2 separate regions of the Homo sapiens genome follow, and region 2 is linked to region 1. Evidence: fine-mapped expression QTL. Tissue or cell type: nucleus accumbens. Region 1 holds a variant in brackets; the other region holds the start of a gene. All regions are shown on one strand. Distances are between the middles of the regions.

What was found. PIP is the estimated chance that this variant, and not a neighbour inherited with it, causes the effect.
Region 2: IFT27 starts here. The variant in region 1 is fine-mapped to the expression of IFT27 in nucleus accumbens (GTEx, PIP 0.98).

Annotation. Positions count from the first base shown.
Region 1 is chr22:36,749,969-36,758,175 of GRCh38, forward strand. All of the region lies in intron 2 of CACNG2-DT (CACNG2 divergent transcript), which reads left to right. Among named protein-coding and RNA genes, the nearest start is that of IFT27, 22 kb to the right of the region's middle. The variant C/T (reference allele first, on the strand shown) is at 3,324.
Region 2 is chr22:36,771,134-36,779,292 of GRCh38, forward strand. It overlaps IFT27 (intraflagellar transport 27), which reads right to left and starts at 4,986. Exons shown (of 7, transcript NM_001177701.3): 1 at 4,541-4,986. The coding sequence starts at 4,574. RefSeq lists silencers at 4,548-4,607, 4,738-4,787 and enhancers at 4,686-5,249, 5,028-5,287, 5,815-6,378.

The sequences.
Region 1 (8,207 bases):
CTCAGAACAACAGGGTCCCCCTGGACTGTGAGCACAGTAGAACCAGCTCTTTCTTGGGATTTTAAGAAAACAGACAAGCTTCGCGCACAGCTGGGTTGCAGCAGTTTTTTTCTTTTCCTTCTTTTTTTTGCTTTCAGCCGTGGCAGCCTGCTCTTGATTTCTCTGGAAAGGCAGCTCCTAATTAGAATGGATCGAAGAGTCTTTGCTTCAGCTTTGTTCTCGGTCTCGACTGAATCGTTGCTTTAGGGCTTAATCTGGTGCAGCCGCTGGTTGGTTGATACCCTTGGTTCTCTGAGCTCCTCTCTGGCTCGGGCAGGCTGGCACCCAGGGGGCACCAGAGCTCTGCAGTGTCACTCTGCTCCCTCTCACTCCAGCCCTCTCTTCCTTCTCTCTTTTTCTCTCCACCTGCCTTCTCTCTCTCTAATTTCTTTTCATTAACGACCCAGAGCTGTCCAGGGTGCCAGTCCCCACTCCTAGGAGTGTAAACTGGTACAATTTATCTGGAGGGCAATTTGTCAAATGCTATTAAAAGCTTTTTTAAAAAAGTACGTAGACTTTGACTTGGAATGTCCCTTTCTAGGAATGTATGTCCTGCAGAAATAATTGGACAGGGGTCCACAGATATGTGCAAGGGGACACTGTCCTTGGCTGTTTTCCTGAGTGACCACCTGGAAACCTGGTGTCCTTCAACTGGAAATCATTATGCGTGGGTCACGTAATAAACCAACTGCAAAAGAACCTTTGGGAGTAAATCAGGGAAATTTGACTGTGGACTGAACAGTAGATGCTCCTAAAGAATTACTATTAATTTTATGTGGTGTGATAATGGCTTTGTGGTTGGTTTAGAGGCAGTGACTGGAGGGCTGGCATTTGGTTTAAACGATCGTAACCACCACCATCATGGCAGGGGAGCAGGACAGAGCAAGTGCGGCAGGATCTTGGAAGTTCCGAATCTGGCTGTCAGGTAAATGAGCGTTCATCATGCTGTTCTGTTTTTGTGTAGGTTTTACAATTCTCACGATTTAAAAAGAAATAAAAAGACCATGTAAAATCACATATATATCATATATATGATATATATGGGATATATATATCATATATGATCATATATATCATATATGATCATATATGATCATATATATGATATATATGAGATATATGAGATATATGAGATATGATATATATGAGATATATATGATATATATGAGATATACATGATACATATATGCATCATATATATGATACATATATGTATCATATATATGTATATATGATACATATATGATATATATGATACATATATGATTTATATATCATATATATGATATATATGATTTATATATGATATATATGATATATATGAGATATATGAGATATATATGATATATATGATATATATGATACATATGATATATATGATATATATGATACATATGATATATATGTTATATATGATATATATGATATATATGTTATATATGATATATATGATATGATATATATGTGATATATGATATGATATATATGTGATATATGATATGATATATATGTGATATATATATGATGTATATCACATATATATCATATATATATCATATATGTCACATATATATCATATATATCATATATATCATATATGTCATATATATCATATATATCATATATATATCATATATATCATATATATATCACATATATGATATATATCATATATATCACATATATCACATATATATGATATATATCATATATATCACATATCATATATATGATATATATATCATATATATGTGATATATATGATACATATATTTGAGACAGAGTCTCGCTCACTGTAACCTCCCCATCCTGGGTTCAAGAGATTCTCTTGCCTCAGCCTCCCGAGTAGCTGGGATTACAGCTGCCCACCATCATGCCTAGCTAATTTTTATATTTTTAGTAGAGATGGAGTTTCACCATGTTGGCCAGGCTGGTCTCGAACTCCTGACCTCAAGTGATCCGCCCACCTCAGCCTCCCAAAATGTTGAGATTACAGTCGTGAGCCACTGCACCTGGCCTAAAATCATATTTTCTGACCTGAAATAATACCCACCAGATATTGTTAAATGAAAAGAGATAAGTTCCAAATTTCATATATGGCATTATCACATTTTGTTTTTGGCTTCAAAATATGTACATATTTGTACATGTGGAGGAGAAAGGGAGGAGGTGCACATGCCTGGATGTGATGGGTGGCTATCTCTGAGTGGTAGGATTTGAATATTTTCTACTTTCTTCTTTATGCTTTTTAGTAATAGTTTCTTTTTTTTTTAAATAAACACACATTATTTCCATGCTTGTAAAAAAGCCATAGTTACTACAGATGATTTGGAAATCACCTATAAAGCACTGAACGTTTACTATATATCATGCCTTCTAAAAGTAGGTTTTATATATCTCCATCCACCCACAAAAACTGGTAAGGTTAGTGGTATTATTCCCATTTCATAAACAAGAAAATTGAGGGCCAGAGAGGATCAGTGCTTTGTCCAAGGACACACCGCTGCAATCCTAATTCCACTCGTCTGATATGAAAGCAGTGCTCTAACCTCTAAACCTTGGCTGCATCCAGAGGGTCTACAGGGGATGTCAGATGTAGCCCCTGCCCTCTAGATGGTGACCCTGTCTTTGCTCTCCTGGTCTCTTGCCCTCATTCTCTTCTCTGGTCACTCCTCTCTGCCCCCCGGAACCAGTTACATAATGGCTTCGGTGAAAATACACTTTCCCTCTCAGATCACAGGTGAAACTCGAAAGCTGCCCATTCAATATTTTCTCCTAATGAGCCTTCCTAGGCTTCTTGCCTTTTTAGAATGGAAACAAGCTCTTCGCTGCCATTCTCCTCATATTCATCAGCTCTGTTTGCTGGCAGGGCAGAAGAGTGAATGGGCATCGTATACATAAACATCATACGATCCACAGAGGGCTGGCCAGCCCGAGTTCTTAATCCTGGCTCCATCACTGACAATTTGCAACCCGGAGAAGTCACTCTCTCTGTGTTTTCTGTCTCTAAAGTAAATAAAGGATAACACACTTTAAAAATCAATTGGTGTTCTGAACAAAAAGGATGGGTGTGTGAAATGAGGACAACTCTAAGGGGCTGAAAATACATTTCCCCAAGTTTTGCAAATGCTGGAGATGGTGCAAGCCTTGTCCTACCTTACCCCTCATCCCCATCAGCTCTTGGTCTCCTTACCTCCAGGCACCTTCTCTCCCACTCCACCCTCCAATTCCTCCAGGCTGATCTTTCCAAAGCAAAAATCCAGGTGAGTCACTTCTGATAATGG[C/T]TCTCCACTCCCTTCTGGAGAAAGTCCAACTCCTCTGCTCTGGGTACAAAGAGCTCCATGTTCTTGCTTCATCCTTGTCTCTGACCTCACCTGCTGGGCACCCGTCTCTCCCCAAACCCTACAACGCACACGGTTCCCCAAGAGGGCCTCCAGCTTCATGCCTCAGGGCCTTTGCATATGCTTCCCTTTGTCTGGAATTCTCTTCCCTGGCTAACATCAGGTATTTCCCTGCAAGGTCCTGGAAACCCTTCCTAGGCAGCAGACCTGGAGCTCCTCCAGGCCACCTCCTCAGTCCTCCCTGATCTCCAATGCAGGGCAGGACCCTGGACAGAGATGAATGCTGGAATGGGAAGCACAGGTGCAAAACCAAAGGCTTCCTTCTGCATCTCCAGGATGGGCACCAATCGTCCAGTAGATGTGGCTTAGTGTAAATTTCAGTTCCCATCCTGGGATCAACTGAATCTGTGCTTCTTGCCACTCCAGCTTGGGCCAGGAAGTTTTTAGTATTCCATTTTTAAAACCACAACATTTTAGCACCAAAATGAATGCATTTTATTTATAGACATGGAAGCAGGTTGCCTCTTGCCCCCATCTCTCCTTCCAGAAGATGGTCTATCCAATGCATGTTTCCCAGATACGGAAAACTACAGGGCTCCTTTCACAGCAGAAACACCGTCCAGGGAAACCTGCCTGGCGGGCTTCTCCTACCCCATCCACATCTGAATGGATGCGGCAGGGAAGGGCCTGGGTGTCACAGAGGCAGTGCTTTGGAACTGGGCAACTGTTTCTGAACACCCACCCCAAACACGACCGGCCCCACAGTGTGTCCACCCTCCCAGTCACCTCGGCTTCCCCGCCCTCTCTGGCTGAATCAGGTGATGTCAAGAGGCAGCTCTAAAAGATGCTGCGGAATGGCCAGCCCAGAGCCATGGAAGAGGACAAGAGGCCAGGTCCCAGGCCAAACCGCTCTTACAGAAGGCAAGAATCGTGGAGGACAACAAACAGAACCTTCTTCGGAGATCCTAAAGGAGACAGAGGGGCGGTTCCTCTAACCTCCCTCAGGATTTGAAAGATCAACGCTTTTTGGGTTCCACTGGAGTTTAGAAATCAAGAGTCGGCTCCTTTTTCTCCTCTATGGATGGCAGGTGATTCTAGGGCAGGGTATGCATCTCTGGTGTCCATCCACACCTCCCACACTCATCGGACTTTACGGAGGTCCAGCGTTGGGCACTAGGAAAAGAAAGTGGTCAAGCTCCACCTCTGAGGGGTCACTGATGAGCCAATGATGCCTAGAGGGTGCCAGGTGCTATGACCTTCAAATCCTGCTTAAACATCACCTTCCAAGGAAGGTCTTCCCGACTTCCCTGTTTAATATTGCAGCCCCCACCCTGGCACGTCCTCTGCACGCCTCTGCTCTATTGCAACCTAACAGACTGCAAAATTTACCTATTCAATCAAACACCTCGCTCACCCCCCTTGAACGTAAGCACCCTGAGGGGAGGCATTTTTGTGTTACTCACTGACAAAATCCCAAGATATAGAACAGGGATTGGCACATAGTAGGTGCTCAGCAACTGCTTGATTCAAGCATTCATTCAGCAAATGCCTTCTTTCAGGAATAAAATCTGCAGACGCAGCATGCATTTTGTCAATGTTTGCTCATTGAGAGTGGGTTCTTTAGGCAAGTGAAGTAATTAATAGCCACTTGTTAGGTTCCCAAATAGTGCTGGGCACTGTGAGGATGTAAAATCTCTGATGTCCGGCTGGGCGCGGTGGCTTACGCCCGTAATCCCAGCATTTTGGGAGGCAGAGGTGGGTGGATCACCTGAGGACAGGTGTTCAAGACCAGCCTGGCCAACATAGAGAAACCCCATCCCTACTAAAAAATACAAAAATTAGCCAGGCGTGGTGGTGCATGTCTGTAATCCCAGCTACTCGGAAGGCTGAGGCAGGAGAATTGCTTGAACCTGGGAGGCAGAGGTGCGGTGAGCCAAGATTGCACCATTGCACTCCAGCCTGGGTGACAGAACGAGACTCTCAAAAAAAAAAAAAAAAAAAAGCTCTGATGTCCATCCACCTCTGGCTTCCTGTTGCCTTTGGAATAAAATAGAAATTCCTCCCACTGTGGACCCTCCCTATCTCACCTTCCTCTCCTTCCCCGGCACACACCAGGGTATGTCTTCACCGGCCTTAAGTTCCTCCATGTTCCAAGCTTGTTCGTGCCTCAGGGCCTTTGCACTTGCTGACCTTCTTGCTGAATCTCAGTGCAAATGTCCCTTCTTCTCATAGTCCTTCCTATCCCCCCAAACCAGTTACCCCACAAATCAACACCCATCTCAGCTCCGTTTTGTCATCTGCACTGCCTCAAATTATCTTGATCATTTATTTACTTGTAGAACCAGTTTATTGGAGAATCTCGAATCCATGGGCTCTGAAACAAAACCATTTTACTTTTTCCTAATTACTTTTTTCCATCAAGCTCTGCAGAGGTCCCCTTCCTGCTGGGTCTTCCTAGCAGGCTGATCCCGACACGTTTCAGACCATCCTAGTCACTGAAAGGCAGGCCAGGCCAGCTCAAAGCTTCCAAAGTGTTTGTTCAAATCTCTTTTCCAGAAGGGTGGGGAGGGGAGCAAGATCTTTTCTTCCTCTCTCTGGAGTAACTTGGAACAGAGGGGCCAGGGAGGAGCTGCGTGTCTTCTCCACAGGCCTCCTCTGGGTCTGGTTCCATCTGTTATCTCCGTGGTGGCAGGGGGTGGGGGAGGTACTTGGTTGTTTTGGGGCTGAGCCTCCTCTGTTGCTGGGGTCTCCTCAGGAAGGGGCAGCCACATTCCCCTCCAGCCCTGCCAGGGGAAGAGGCCCCCTGCCCTTTTCCAGGTAGGAAACAGCTCCCTTTGTCAGTACCTGGCTGGCTGGTCACATGACTCCACTCCATGTGGGTCCTTCTAGGAGCCTTCCGTGGAACACCCGTGCCGCCCTTCCAGACGCGGTCCTTGCTTTTCCCACTGCTGGTGCAGGCTTCTCCCCAAGCCTCTCCCCATGGAACGCCCCCCAGAGGGGACCAAACAGCTCTGGGGATGTGTGCTGAGCTTCCCAAGGGTGCCCTCGCCACCCTGTGCTGCAGCTGGCACCAGGTTTCTGCAGCTCAGAGAGCATCCGGCTGGGGGTGTGGTGCCAGCCCCCTCTTCCTGGCAGCATCCTGTCTCAGGAGGATCCTCTTGGGCCTCCTTCCCTTGGCGGGGCAAGGGGGTGATGGGGGGGGCACCCACTCACCAACACAGTGGCCACCCTCACTCCCATCTCTCTTGACCATTCCAATCTTATACAGACAGGGAGGAGTGGGGAGTAGGGGGAAGGGGAGCTCACAGCAGCAGGACCAATTCTTCCGCCTCTACTAGGGCCATGGGGAAGGGGGCTGGCCCTAAGCTTCCATGATCTCTTTAGGAGGTGGTTTATTTAGCATCTTTGTCCACAGCTGTGGCCCTGGTAACCAATTCTGGGGCAACCGGAAATGTCCCCGCTGCATCCCCTTGGTTATGGTGAGCCTTCCCTTTTGGAACATGTGACACGAAACCAGCAGCCTGGCGTTGCTAGTGCCTAGGAAAATGCCCGGCAAATGGTAGGCCCTTGGTAACTACTTGCTGAAGGCATGACGCGGCCGCTACAGTGGCTTCATGTTGAGTAACAGGAAAAGAAGGGGGACGCGAGAGCCTGACCTTGGCTGACACCGTGTGCCCAGATGCCCTGCACACCCGTTACTTCACTTCTCACAGTGACCTTGAGAGGCAGCCTAACCCCCACCTGCTCCCAGCCAAGCTCGGGAGGAGGCAGAAGAGGACGGCGGCTGGGAGCCGGGCTCTGGCGTCCACGATCGTGGCTCGGCCACCCCTTGGCTAAGTGTCTTAATTCTCTGACTCCAGCTCCTCATTTGTAAAAGGGGGATGGTAAGACTCTGCACTGTAAGGACTAAATTAGCGAATATATGACATGTGCTTAGCTCATGTAGAGACATGGCAGGTCGTAAACAGGAACCAGGGCAATTTCCATTATTGCCATTATCACTGGGACAGGCCCAGGTCCGTCCACCCCAACGCTGGCACTCTGCATGACACCCCTAGCTCCTGTGGAGGGAGAGTGATGAAGTCCTCTGGGGCACGGGGGCTGAAAGAAGCCGAGACCCCTGGGGGAAGGTGACAGTCAGGGAAGGCCTTGGATGCCAGACCTTGGCCGGCATCCTGATGTAAAAGGTGGTGAGGCACCTCTGTGGGTCTTTAATCAGGGGAGTGAGACGATGAAAGTGGTGTTTTAGAAGATTAATCTGGCAGCAGAGACAGGATGGAGAACAGTCAAGCTCAGTGCAAATAATGATGCCAGCTGCCCAGCTCCCCGAGGCAGGCAGGAGCCCTGGCCTCCCTGCGCTCAGCCTTCCCTGCAGCCATAGAGGCTGGACCTGCCACCAAGAGACAGGCACCAAGGAAGGCCGGCAGAGGGCACTGTTCTGCCAGTGACAGGAACTACCTCCAGGGAGGTCTGGCATCTGGCTAGCCAGGAGCAAGCAGCAGAACGGACTCTGTCAGAATAAGGGGGCCATCAGCCCCATCTCAGCCTTGGGACAGGTTCTGAGCTGGGCATTTCAGCTGTGGGAAACCGTAAGCAAACGCTGGGCCAGGCCCTTTCAATACCCACTGCGGGCTTCGCTTTTGCAGTGGGAGGCCCTTTAAGGAGCCGGTGCACCCTGCCGCGCAGTGGGCAGGACCACCCCCTCGAGCAAGGCGACGTCCCGAAGCACCAGCCTCACAGAAGGGAGGGCCAGGGTCCCAAGTGGGGCTCCCGGCTGCCCTGGAACCGGCAGTGACGCAGTGGCCAAAGTGTACAGTGGAACTAGGG
Region 2 (8,159 bases), 21 kb after region 1:
TCTCAGAGATCCACACCTTGGCTCCCAGGGCCCCTCCTCCCTGCTTCTGGGCTGAGAGCCCCACATGCTTCCCTCTGCTTCCCCAGCCCAAGAGGTGGTGCTCCTTCCTGCAGTTACTACCCGTGCTGCCTCAGTTTCCCCCTTTTCCTCTTCCAGTCCTCTAGCACCAGTGTCATTCACATCCTACTGAAATCCTCACTGTTGAAATGCCGAGTAGAGTTGCTGGTTTTTGCCTGGCCCCTGACTTATGTAGTCCTTGGTACCAGGAGTGGTCTTAAAACATGGACCCTCCAGGATGGTTTGGAACTGGTTTGGTGTGTCTTGCCCTGAACACAGGGCTGGGCTCCTCCCAGTGGGAAATGGGTCCTGGTGCTCTGTGGCATGTGCTGGGGTCACGCGGCAGGTGACTGAACTCCTGAGGTGCCGGGACCAGCCGGGCAGGGCCCCTTCCTCAGGGGTCCGGATCCCAGCTCCCTGGGTCTCTTCAAGCTTCTGACAACCCCGACCTCTGCCCGCCAATCTGTGTCAACTCAATGCTGCCTTCTTGCTTCCTCAGTTCTCCAACACTTGATGAAGCAATTCCATACATTAAAATTTCTCTGCTGAAATGACGACTGCGTTTTCTGTCTTCCCGACTGTGCCTTGAACACTTCTTTTCTCTTCTTTTTTCTCCCGGCTGTTATCCACCCAGTGGGTGGCATCAACAGGTGGACCCCCATGACACAGTGCCTCCATCTTGGCAAACCTTCACACAAACCCCACTGAGGATTCCTTCATAGCCTACCCATCTCCACGGTCAGCCCTAACCCACCTTCCCACTCTCTCCCTAGTAATCCCTTACCCCAAATCTGGGCTCTGCATTCCTGTTCGCCCAGTCCCTGGAAATTCCTCAAGGCCACCTCCTTCCAGGTACCCCTAGACCAAATTCAAATCCTGTCCATTCTCTGCAAGGAAAGCTCAAAGAATACCCTTCCTGCACAGCCTCTGAAGGCCATCTCTCCCTCCTTCATCTTTATCTGTGTGGCTAACGTGGATCGTTGCTCAGTGGTAGCGCACGATGTGATGTCAGAGCAACCCTCCCAGGAGGCTCTATTACCATCTCCATGTATATCAAGAGGCAGCATATTATGGTACTTAAGGGCACAGACTCTGGAGCCAGACTCCAGCTCCATCACTTTCTAGCTGTGTGAGTTTAAATCAGTTACTTAACCTCTCTGTGCCTCAGCTGCAACATGTATAACCTAAGATAATCATAGCACCTACCCCACAGAATTGTTATGAGGATTTAATGAGTTAATATGCACAGTGCCTGGCATATATAAGTACTATTTAAGTGTTTTTTTAAAAGTAAACAAAATACAGATCAATGTCAAATGTTGTTTTCTTTCTTCTCCAGAACCAGAACAAGTAGCAGCTGTGCCTGGAGGCATTTCCCCGCATCTGGCACACAAAGGGCATTCACTTTGTGTTCGCTGTGTTAGAACGTATCACACGCATCTTAGTTCTTCCTTGAGTGCAACTGACTCATGCTTGCAGGCCCACTGCACCTTGCACGGTGACTCTGACGTAGTAGGTGCTCAGCGAGTATCTGTTCAATGCATAAACACTTGAACTGAACGTCAGGTCCTTCAATGACCAGTTATGTGAGAGAAAAAACAGAGTAACTCAGTTTAAACAGTAGGGCTGTGGGTCATGGATGGAAAAATAAAACCAATGGCATGTGTGTGGTGGGGGTGGGTGGACAGGTGTCAGAGGGGGCTGATTTCTGGGCTGAGGTCTTTTGGTCCCTGGAAACTTCCAAGAGGAAATGCTGTGGAATCCCTGAAAAGAGGCTGCAGATTGAGGCGCAGGCTGGAGTTCAGGAGCCACTAACTAGGCAGTGGCTGCACTCAGGTGAAAGAACTACCCAAGGGAGTTGGGGGTAAAGAAGGGCACAAAGAGGCCGGGCATAGTGGGTGGCTCACGCCTGTAATCCCAGCACTTTGGGAGGCTGAGGCAGGTGGATCACTTGAGGTCTGGAGTTCAAGACCAGCCTGACCAACTGGTGAAACCCCATCTCTACTAAAAATACAAAAATTAACTGGGCATGGTGGTGTGTGCCTGTATCCCCGGCTGCTCGGGAGGCTGAGGCAGGGAATCATTTAAACCCAGGAGGTGGAAGTTGCAGTGAGCTAAGGTTGTGCACCACTGCACTCCAGCCTGGGAGACAGAGTGAAATTACGCCTCAAAAAAAAAGGTCCGGGCACAGTGACTCACGCCTGTAATCCCAGCACTTTGGGAGGCCGAGGCGGGCAGATCACCTGACGTCAGGAGTTCAAGACCAGCCTGGCTAACATGGTGAAACCCAGTCTCCACTAAAAAATACAAAAAATTAGCTGGGTATGGTGGTGGGCGCCTGTAATCCCAGCTACTTGGGAGGCTGAGGCAGAAGAATCGCTTGAACCCAGGAGGTGGAGGTTGCAGTGAGCTGAGATTGTGCCATTGCACTCCAGCTTAGGCAATGAGAGTGAAACTCCGTCTCAAAAAAAAAAAAAAAAAAAATAGAAGGACACAGAGGAGCACTACTTGAGGACAGAGTAGCTTGGGCTAAAGCCCTGGAAATCAGATTGGGACCCAGGGTCTGGATCATACAGCTCTGCCACTTCCAGCTCTGTGACCCATGGCAAATGTTCTCATTTTTCTGGGCCTCAGTTGCCTCATCTGTAAATGAGGATGGCAATAATGCCAATCCCACAGGGTTGCTATGAGGATTCAATGAGACCACCTGTATTGAGGGTCTAGCAGAGCTGATGCACCCAAAGCGCCAGTAAGTTAGCTCCATGATGAAAACCGAATTTAAAAAGAACCCAGAGAGAAGCCCATTTAAAAAAAAAAGTAACTTCAGAAAATAATGTTCCCACCTTATCCATAAGGAAATTAAAGCTCAAAAAGTGCTTCGTCCAAGATGACACAGCCAATAAGAGGAACAGGCAAAATTACTTTTGTTACACAACACTGCCTCCTCTGGTGCTCTGGAAACTGGAGATTCTCCTGAGAACCATTAATTTATTTTGCTCCAGTATGATTCAGTTACTACTGTCAGTCATCTTTCTGTGTGACCCTTTTATTTTCAAATTATAAAAGCCATTAAAAATATTATCATTTATTCTCAGTCTGGAAGAGGGGAATTTTTTAAAACAGGAATCTCTTTTTCTCTATATAATTTCTCACCACTTCTTTCCTGAGCTGGCCAGGGAAGCCTGGAAAGGTCACAGGTTTCAACAGAAACACGAGTTAAGAGTTTTGGAGTTGGCCAGATCTAGGGGCTGAAATCCTGCATAGGGCCTTCACTAGGGGTTGACCTTGGCTGACATCTCTCAGTGCCTCAGTAAGATCAGAACAATCCAGTACCTGGCCGGGCGCAGTGGCTCATGCCTGTAATCCCAGCACTTTGGGAGGCCGAGGTGGGTGGATCACCTGAAGTCAGGAGTTCGAGACCAGTCTGGCCAACATGGTGAAACCCCAGCTCTATTAAAAATACAAAAAAAAATTAGCCGGGCATGGTGGCTTGCGCCTGTAATCCCAGCTACTTGGGAGGCTGAGGCAGGGGAATTGCTTGAACCAGGGAGGTGGAGGTTGCAGTGAGCCGAGATTGCGCCACTGCCCTCCAGCCTGGGCAACAGCGTGAGACTCCGTCTCAAAAAAAAAAAAAAAAAAGAAAAACAATCCAGTACCTAGCCCAGTGTGCTATGGTGAGACGATTACATGAAATATGTGTGCTTCACATGCAGTAAGCACTCAGTAACATGCATATGTGTTTCGCAGTCTATAATCCAAAATATTGTTTTTCTAAATGTGCAGACTGATACAAGGGGTACACTACAAATGTGCATGCCACATATTCACATATTCATCCATTCTAAAAGTATTTATTGAGTACCTACTATGTTCCAGGCATTGTTCTGGGTGCTTGGGATGTATCAGTCAACAAAACAAAGATTCCTGCCTTTGGGAGACTCAACATTTATGCCCTTCTTGGAGTGGGGCAGCACAGTAACTTTGGGTCTTAAAGACAACACACAAGTGCCTTTTGCAAACTCTGGTCACTACACTCAGGTCACCGTTATCAGAGGGGGTGAGGTCGGGGGAAAAATCCCATAGTAAAGACTACCAAAGTCACTGATGCCTAACTTTGGGGTACAGTATATGTTTAGCTGAAGCACTCAAGGTTTGCTTAAGCTTTGTTTGTTTTGTTTTGTTTTAACAAGTCTGCTTCTCCAGAGTTGTAACTAGTGATTTTTTAACGAGTCACCTCAACTGGTGAAGGTGGTCTCAGAGTATGTGACAGGGAGCAGGGGGAAATCCACTGGAGCTGCGAAGTGCCCTGGAAGATCATTCTTCCACGCCTAACGTAATTTACTGTATCAGTAATTGCAGTAACTCGCCTTTGGGAGAGAGAAAGGAAAAGGTAGGCAATTTAGGTGAACAAAAGCTCTGGATGAATTATGAAGGCTCTGGACTCCAGAGACCACCGTATTCAAGCGCAAGTTTTCAGACTCACCTGCCAGGATGCATTTGGCTGCCAGCTTCACCATGGTAACCAACACTCCCGCGAGCCGTACCCAGAGGACAAGAGCGGCTGCTAGAGACGCGAGTGGGTGGGCTTCGGGCCCTGGGCTGGCCTGGGACGGGAAGGTGGGGAGGGGAGGGCTGATCTCAAGGGTCAGTGGCCGCGACGGGACTGGGGATGACCGAGCCCGGCCCTTCTGGGCCGGGGGCGGATATCGGGCGCTGGGGGCGGGTGGGCAGGGGAGGGCTCCAGGTGGGCCCGGCTCGAGGCCTGACACGGCAGTCTGAAAAGGTGCAAGCGAGCGGACACGGCCTGTGCTCCCCGCCCAGCCCCTCAGCACAGCCCTACCCAGAGGGTTCAAGGAAGGACGATCCGGCTCTCCTCCGATCACAAGTACCGGGCCGGATGCACTCTCCAAGCAACCATAGCCCACCTGCCCCGCCTCCTCCTCCTCCTCGCTGACCCTCGATTGGTTGCCGCCAAAAGCTCCCACCCTCAAGGTCTCACAAAAATCCAATGGGAGTAGAGAGCTGGGATAACAGCCTTTTCTTGAGATGCAATTCGTAGAGTTATCAGTTCTTCAAGTTCAGTCTGCTTGACGAGTGGTTGTAATTGACGTCAACCAGCTTTATATCCCGCCCCCGCTGCGCCTGAGAGTCCCGAGATAAAGAAGCCTCCACGTCAAGCAGTCAGAAGCGGTGACAAGAGAAGCTTTCTGATTGGTCAGAGTCTGGCTTGACCCATCTTCGGGAGGAATAGGGATTCGCCACTCCCGCTGTCCTTCTAGAAGTGGGTTCGCCTACAATGGGGCAGGTTGGGCTCTAGGCGGTCTGGAGCGGCGCCTGCGCAGTGGGCCAGGCCGCCGCTGTAGAGGTCGTTTTGACTTGCTCTGACTTCGCGCGGTTCTCGCGGCTTCCCCGGTTCCCGGGTTCTGCACAGCGCGGCTATTAAAGTGCATGGAGAAGTGCAGTCCTTGCCCCGCATCCCGCAGGGAAATCTCATTTTAAAAGCTCAAAGATGTAATGAGCGTTAAAATCTAAAATATGAAGGTGTTTTATTAAAGTGATGTTTGTGAACAAAGGGAGAACAAATACACTTTGATGGGGCTAAGCGGTGAGACTCGGAAACTTGAAGTCGTACTTTGCTCTTAGTCCATTTACTCTCTGCAAAAGGAGAATGCATCACTAACCTCGTTTGCCCGTCACCCAGGGAGGCTCTCTGTACGCGTTTACTGGGTTGGGGGTGCCTCTTGCACGTGGTTAGGGGGTCAGAGACCTAAATCCCTGGCCTGGACAAGTCACCTCATCCCTCAGCCTCAGGATGGGCCTAGGAGAACCCGCCTTGTGGGGTGGTTGTGGAGATGGAAGGAGAGAAACGTATGAGTGCCTGGGAGATAGTAGGTGCACACGTGATTGTGGGGTGGATGGGAGAGCGGAAGCTTATCTGGACAGATTTGGTTTATCATCACTGTCACTGGTTGGCCGAATGTACCCCTTGTTCTCACTTTCTCAGGGCCCCTGGGATTCTGATGGCTGATGCTGAAGGGAAGAGCAGCCCCTCAGCAAAGGTGCCTGTGCGAAAGTTCCACATTCCCTCCAGACACCTAGAACATTCCACCTCTCCGCCACTCTGCATCTCAGAGTGGCTGCCAGCCTTGTGTGGGGGAATAAACACACACACTCTATGAATGGCTGATGGTTTCAGCCCCGAATCCAGAGTAAATGCAAGTTGTCTGAGATGTTCTTTCCTTGGGATTCATTCCTGGCGCTACGGTAAAGGTCTGTTTCTCCTTCATTTCTCGTAACTGCTTTTCTTCTTTGGTGACATCACGTGAGTCTGTCTCAGACATCCAGGTCTGAGTGAGCAAAAAGCCTCTTTCTGGTCTTCTGCCTTCCTCTTGCCGGCTCCCCTCCAGGCCAACCTGTTCACCATGAGTGACCCTGTTAATCCCTTAAAGGACCCCATTTGGTGAGTCACCCTCCCGAGGCAGCTCCACGTAGCTAAGACACAGACACACATCAGGGCAGCCTCCGAAGCCTTGGTTCCTTCATTTTGCGAGGTGGGTAATGACAGAGCCGGAGCATAGCCATCTTGGACAAGCACTGCCATTTTAAAGTTCTCCTTGATCAAAAACGGCCTAAATTCAACCCAAAGGGCATCAGCCTAATGGCTAATGTCAGAATGACCATAAACCACAAGTGACATCTCCAATCAGAAACATTCCAACCCTAAGATAAACCCACCCCCCGACCAGAGACATGCAGCCCCAAGATAACCTCCCCTCTGGTCAGAGAGATGTCAGCCCCAACATAACCCACCCTCAGACCGGAGACATTCCAACCCCACAGTAAACTTCTCCTCCACACAGAAACATTCCAAGCCTGTGGTAAGCTCTCTTGCCCTAAACCCTTAAATACTCTTAGTCTGTAAGAGAGAGCACTCCTGACTGAAATTGGCCAGAAGCCCCTCTCAGGTTTATGCTCCAAAATAAACCTGTATTTAACTGTTGAGCCACTTTTCATGTTTCTTGCCTCTTTCTTTAACTCTTGCAGGTAATAATCACACCTCCCTCCCAGGGCTGTTCTCTGTTCCCCACCCACTGTCTCCCTTTTGTTGCTGCTACTCTGTGTGATTTTAGTCAGCATTATCATAAGAGCATTGTAGAACTTTCTAGAGAGATGGTAAACACTTGTATGGTGAATTCTGTCCCCCTTCACCTCATGGACCCAAGGGCCTTCTATACATTTCTGTGACTGAAGGTAAGCTGAATGAGAGTCACTAGGTTTAAGGTGGTCAGAGAATTTTGGAGCCATGGGGGCTCCTGAGCAATTCGAGTTATCCCATTTCTGAGCAGCTCTAATAGTCACAGCTGGCCTATGTTGACCACAGACTTAAGGCTGGCCTTGTTCTAAGTGATTTTAGGGATTAATTAGTTTAATTTCACATTTACATTTGATATTCACAATAACCATGTATCATCCCCATTTGATAGATGGGGAAACTAGGGCCCAAATGAGATTAAGTGAAACACCGAAGGTCACCTAGCTAGTGAGTAGCAGAGATGGATTTGAACTCCTTCTCACCCTTCCTAAAGAGCAAATACTTATTGAGTTCCTTGCCGTAATAACTTGCGTTGATTGAGCATTAGATGTGAGGCATCTGCTAAGCACTTCACATCCTCTCTCCTGTATGAAACCATGACCCTGGGAAGTGGAAACTCTCATTCATTTGAAGAAAGGAAAGAGCCACAGAGAGGCCAAGGTCATGCAACAAGTCAGCCAGATCCAGAACCAGCCTCAGATCTCTTGACTCTGGGGACCAATGTTTGTTTCTTTGTTTTCCCCCATTATCCAGCATAGTCTCTCCATTTTCATTAATTAGCTTTTCTTGAGTGCCTACCATCAGCCAGGCATGGTGTTGGTTGCTGGATCCACTGAAGGGTGGGGATGACAGAGCCCCAGGCTTTACCTCTGGGTGAGATATCACGGCAATGTGGGAATACGGGCCCAGGGTTGCACACTTTTCTAGAGGAGCCAGGAATCTGGATTTTTGTGTGAAATCCCCTGACCTGTTAGTGTTGGCAATGAACTTAAATTTAAAACACTGTAGC